2 separate regions of the Homo sapiens genome follow, and region 2 is linked to region 1. The links come from fine-mapping of genetic effects on gene expression. A gene starts in region 1. The other region holds a variant in brackets. All regions are shown on one strand. Distances are from middle to middle.

Region 1 (2,901 bases):
TAGAACAGTAAAATCTTCGATTTCCTGTTATCTTTCTTCTGTATCTTTGTTATGTGCCCTGGACACTCTGTGTCCTACAAACATTTTTAACTGAACAACTTGCAGCGTTCTCCAACTAGCTCTAAGATCATCTTGGCAAAGAAATGGCAAGGCTGGGATTAACTAGAAAAGCCACCAGGATTTCTATTTTTAAAAAAAGGAAATTAAGAGTTTAAATTCAATTGGATCAACCCTACACACATATCCAGAGTTTCCCAGAACTCACCACTGTTTGCTGGTGTTGCTGAAACTTAAGACTGACATTCTGGATCCAAAAAAAGCGGAAGGAGCCAATCTTTAGCTCCGCCTGCAGCTTCCGCTGACACCACTTGGTGGCCAACCGGACCACAAGCCACCTGCAGAAAAATTCCTGTTAATTCATAGGACCTTTTTCCAATGATGGTTTCCCTCACCCCTTGCTGGTCTTTCAAAGCCTTGCAAAAGGTCGTTCCTGAAACTGGATCTGAGCAACTCTCCTTTCTTCCAAAGCACCACTCTGTCATATACATTCAGCCACGCTGATCAAGATCCTAGCTCCCGACTGACCCCTCCACCCAGATGAAACCAGAAACTGCACCCTCTAAGTTGAAGACAAAAACAAAATCCCTCAAATTGTTATGAATCCCAGAGGCAGAGAGAGAAGACCCCAGCAAGAGTCAAAGCGGAGGCGGCTCTGTCACATGTGCCATCACACTCCCCAGAGGGTCTGTCTGTCTCCTGCTCCCACCCTCCAGACAGGTATCCACGAGAAGGCACTTTGAGGTCAGACCCGGCAGCTCGAATGCTGTTCTCCCCAGACCGATGCTGCAGGTGCCCATCGCGCTTGGCGAAAGGGACATGCAGGGGTGGGTGGAGGGGGAAAGGGAAGCCACTGAACCAGGCCCCTTCCTCACACTCCTATTCAGTTCCTGGCCTCAGCATTTCCTCAGACCCCGCCCGCTTCCTCAGTCTCCCCAACTCGCAGCCCATCCCTGGGAGCTCGGGCCACGCGCCTCCTCACGATCCCTCCCCTCGCCGCGCGCCCCCTCCCTCCACCCTACCCACTCTGCCTCACGCGCCTCAGTAAGGCGCGCGCCCCCTCCTCAGTCTTTCTTCCTCCTCTCCGCCCCCTCCCTCCCGCCGCCGCCGCCGCCGCCGGCGCGGCCGGGAACCCTCACCGGCCTAGAAAGAGGGCGCTAAGCGCAACTAGCAGCAAGACCAACAGCGCGGAGAAGAACAGAGGCATTTAGGTCCGGGTCCGGCCCGGCTTGGCCCCGGCCCCCGCCATGCCGGGCCCCGACGCCGGATCCGCGCAGCACCGCCGCGGGCCGACCAGCTGCGCGCGCAGGAGCAACGCTGAGCGAGGACGCGCTGGTGCGCACACGAGCCCCGCCTTCCGCAGCCCGCCAGCCAACCAACGGCCTCCCACCCCAGTCCCGCCCTGTCCTACGACGCTGCAGGGCCGACGGGCTGCGTGCGCGAGGAGCGGGCGTGGTTCCGGGAGGAGGGCGAGGGGGAGCGGACCAAGAGCTGAAACACGCCCCGGGCGCACACCACGGTGCCCGGAACCGCGGGGCTCGGGGACCCGCGGGGGTCGGAGTCCGGGCCCACTACCTGGGCTGGCGGTGGACCTGGCTGACTCATTTCGGTCCGGGGAGCTCACTTTGAGGGGAGTTGGAGTCCGCCTAGCCACTTAGGCCTGGACTCAGGGTTCTGCGGAAGTTACACCCCTGGTCAGACGTGGTAGCACTCCCATCTTATTCAAGATCCTGTTTGAAAATTACTGAGGCAGAAACTAGGAGGTAATTAAAAGGCCTCAAAAATCTCGCCTCATTCCATCCACAGAGGAAACTAATGAGGTTTTGTTTTTTTTTTCTTTGAGACAAGGACTCGCTACGTTGCCCAGTCTGGTCTCGAACTCCTGCAGGCTCAAGGGATCCTCCTGCCTCAGCCTCCTGAGTAGCTTGGACTAAAGACGCGTGTCACGGTTCCTGGCCAATGAGTTTTTACTTCATTTACTGTTTGAACACTGTTCTGGTCCATCTACTTATGGCACGAACTGGGCCCTGATGGAGGAGAGGAGGAGATACTGCAGAAGTAGTGAATATTGTTCTTGCCCTTTAGCAAAAAATAGTTTATCTGGGAAGCAAACATAATTACATAAAGTAGACAATACATAGTCAGTTTTGCCTGCTTCCTTCTGTGTAGTTTATCTGGGAAGCAAACATAATTACATAAAATAGACAATACATAGTTTTGCCTGCTTCCTTCTCTGTAAAATGAGAGAACAGGACAAAGGTCCCTCAGCGTTACTGTGCTAAGGATCAGTATCTGAATGATGATCTACTGATACAGCACAAGCTAAGGAAATCCTGACGGTTTCAAAATAAGTATTATGGAGGAGGTCATGTCTCTTTTCATACCCCTTCGCTCCCACGTCCTAATCTCCATATATATCCTTCAAGATTTTACTCAGAGCCTCTCTTTTTGGCTCCCTCAGATAAAACACCATTTCATCTTTCACCTGTGTGTTGCCCGAAGTTGCTTTCACTCCTCTGATTGTTTCCTCCCTTATCTATTCCTCTCTTCAGTGATTTCACATCTCCCCAAGAGCTCCAGCGCTGCTGTTTCAAGGTCATACTTACCTCTCAAGCACTGTATTTGCGTCATCTTCCTCGTCATCTGCAGCCTTCCCCCAGGGTATGTCCTCCGAATGCTCTGGGAAGGCCCAATTCACTGAAAACCTCTGTCCAAGTCAAGGAGGGGTGCCGTGCAACACGTATCCCTACTCTGGTTCATCTTATCCAATCTGTTTATTGAACCAAGATTCCTGTCACTTCCTTCCTTCTCCCTTGACTATTACCGGCCCTACTCCCAGCCATC
Region 2 (2,901 bases), 67 kb before region 1:
GAAAGGGCACATCCCGGAGTCCCAGGTAGCAGGACGAGGATGGCAGGGGAAGAGCCAAGGAAATGAAGCGGAGATGTTGAGTGGCTCCCGCCTTGCCTGGCCTTACCTGTGCGCAGCCAGTTAGCAGCCGCAGCCACAAGCACAGCTCGGGTTCTGATCCGCAAACAGATGAGGCTGCAGCCCTGGCTCCCTCTGGTAAATGAGGCTGCGGATGTCGCAGAGCTACGTGACTCCTCCGGGGGCGTGGCCTGCATGCCCCGCCCTGACCACACCCCCTCCCCAGGACTGGTGTCCGGGGCAAGACCACGCCCTCAGAGGCGGGGCGGCGAGGTGGAGTGAGCGCCCCGCCAGGCATCCGTGGCTGTTAGGGACTGCCCTCCCACCTCGGGGAGCCTGGCCATGACCTTGCGTTCATTTCTGCCACAATCCCTTTACCACGTGCCGGGCACTTGCTGGATGCTGGGGATTAAGCTTAGTCTGGTGAAGAGGAGGCACCAGAACAGTAACAACAGGTTGAGTAGGTGGGGCAGAAGCATCTTCAAGGTGCCCAAGTTCAGGGCAGGAAGTAATGAACTGAGCTTCTCTGTCCTCACCCCCATATTTGCCAGGGTATACCCCCGAGGGGGCTGGGGAAAGTAAGAGAATGAAGCCTTTCTGTTTCCTCCAGGCGGTGAGCCAGGGAACAAGCAGTCCAGTGCCCAGAGTTTTGGTGAAAGCAGAGGAAGGGAGGAAGGGCAGGCAGCCTTGGCTTTGGATGCAGCAGGAGGTGGAGAGGGATCTATGGAGGGTGCCCAGGCAGGAGGCCCAAGCTGCTTCTTCCCTGACTTCATCATCCGCCCCCTCTCACCCAAAAAGTAAGATTCCGTAAGCTTGGAGAAATTCATTAAATACACTTTATTTAAATAGCATTTATCTCAGTTGGCTCTATGCCAGTTGGTCTTGGTATTGGGGTAAGGGGGTATTGCAGGTAAAAAGAGGTGAAGCAGATTCTGGCTTTCAGTTTCTTAGCTCAGAAATTCCAGCAATCCCTGTAGTTCTTTGCATCCCCTCACCACCTCTGGAATAGAGAGCAGGGTCTGGGAAGAGAGGCAGAAAACGCAGCTCAGGACCACAGACTTAAGGCCCAGGGCTCCCAGCCCCAGGAGGCAGCCGCTGAATTAGAGGGGAGAAAACAGACACCACAGAGAAGCCTGCAATAGTGATTCAGGCCCAGCTCTCAGCACAGGCTGGGAACCAGATCTGTGCTCATTAGTACCTCCTGGGGCCAGGCCTTGTACCAGGTTCATTAGTGATATCACCTCCCTCCTGCCTATACCTTATAAATATGCTGAACAATGTCATCTAGTTTTTCTAACTCCTTGTCAGAGCGCCGAAGGTTCTCCTCTAGGATATTTCTCTAGAAAGCAAACAGATTTTATAAGTCCTATGCATAAAAGAGCAAACTTGGTAGGACAGGGGAAACATGGCGGGGCATTTGTTAACGATGGTAGGAAATGGCCCTGGAATGGCATGGACATTCTTACATGGCTCTGGAACTTGATCATGAGTTTTTCCTTCTCATTTTTCATCTCCAGGAACATCACTCTCAGTTTGTCCACCTAGAAATATGTCCAGATCAACAGGG[G/T]TACAGCCTGGGGTCCCCACCTGCTGTCCAGCTCCTCTGTTAACTCTGAGTCACCTCCTGAGAGAGCCACACTTTCTCCTGGATCCAATTGGTGGCCATAGGCTGGCAGTTGGAGTCCAGCTGGCCTGCCAGGGCCTCCTGGAGCACTTTGGTCTCTGTCTCCGCACGCCGAAGTGAGCGGGTAAGGTGGGTCACCTCCTCTCTAAGGCTCTGGGAATGAGAATGGAGAGGTGTCCAATAGGACATAAGGATAGACAACATGTGGTGAACAAAAGCAAACCATTTCTCATACTTGGGATCCTGGCTGACCAGTAACACAGAAGGCAAAGGCCTGGGCATGATGGTGAACATACTATGAGCTCGCCACTCTTGTCTATCTGTTCTAGGATCTTCTCATTCTGCTGCTGTATCACTTCCTGGAGCTCCTTTTCATTCTGTGAGGGAAAGGGAGGTGAGAAGACACATGAAGAGCTGGTCTCTTCACAGCCCTTGCCAGGAGGTAGGAGAGAGTGCCTGACCCATGCTTAGCCCACATGGGACCAATTGATATCACGCCAATTCTTTCCCCAGGGCCAAGCCAGGCAAGGCACATTTCAGTGTTGGGAGAGCTCTGCTAGAGTTCCTGACTTCTCTCCTGAGTCAGCCTGGGAAGACAGGTCAGCCCATAGCTGACATGTGAAATGTCTGACCCCAGGAAGGGCAAAACTAGGGCAGTGGTTGGAAAATCCCCACCACCCAGATTCCTGGAGAGATAATGGCTCCCAGTGGGCCAGTAGAGCTGCCCCAGTTCTTCATCGCCCCACTTCTAGGTCCCTCCTTCACCTTGTAGCGCAAGCACAAGGCCTGGTTCAGCTTCTCTATGTCTGCTTCTTTTGCCTTCTGGACTTCCTGATGCTGTTCTTCCTGGGCCTGCAGCCTAGCTTGCAGCTCACAACTGAAGGAAGGAAGAATTTAGCAACATTCCTGTCCTCTCAGGGATCAGTTGGACCCTTGGCATAAGAGGATGTCTCACTGTCCCTCTGTCACCAAAACTGCATCCCACTCACATTTTTCGCTGCAGAGTCCTGATGGCTTCTTCTTTAGACTCTTGTAGCAGGGAACAAAGACTCTGAAGCTCAGTAGTCATAATACTCATTTCTGCCAGGCTCTCCTCCATGCCTGGGGTCTCTGAAAGAGAAAGTCCCAGATAGAGGTCTAGCCTTCCAGCCCTGGAAGGAAGGAGTGTATAGCCATCATTTCCACAACTCTTATCCGTGTTCCCCACCCACAGGATTTGA

Evidence for each region. PIP is the estimated chance that this variant, and not a neighbour inherited with it, causes the effect.
Region 2: its variant is fine-mapped to the expression of BLTP2 in whole blood (TOPMed, PIP above 0.99).

The regions. Positions count from the first base shown.
Region 1 is chr17:28,643,793-28,646,693 of GRCh38, forward strand. BLTP2 (bridge-like lipid transfer protein family member 2) reads right to left here and starts at 1,366. Exons shown (of 39, transcript NM_014680.5): 1 at 1,197-1,366; 2 at 266-395. The coding sequence starts at 1,264. RefSeq lists silencers at 1,163-1,502, 1,523-1,752.
Region 2 is chr17:28,576,695-28,579,595 of GRCh38, forward strand. ALDOC (aldolase, fructose-bisphosphate C) reads right to left here and starts at 201. Exons shown (of 9, transcript NM_005165.3): 1 at 107-201. SPAG5 (sperm associated antigen 5) reads right to left here. Exons shown (of 24, transcript NM_006461.4): 18 at 2,671-2,791; 19 at 2,447-2,558; 20 at 1,978-2,058; 21 at 1,679-1,834; 22 at 1,524-1,598; 23 at 1,316-1,396; 24 at 880-1,076. The coding sequence ends at 1,005. RefSeq lists a silencer at 134-373 and an enhancer at 424-603. The variant G/T (reference allele first, on the strand shown) is at 1,625.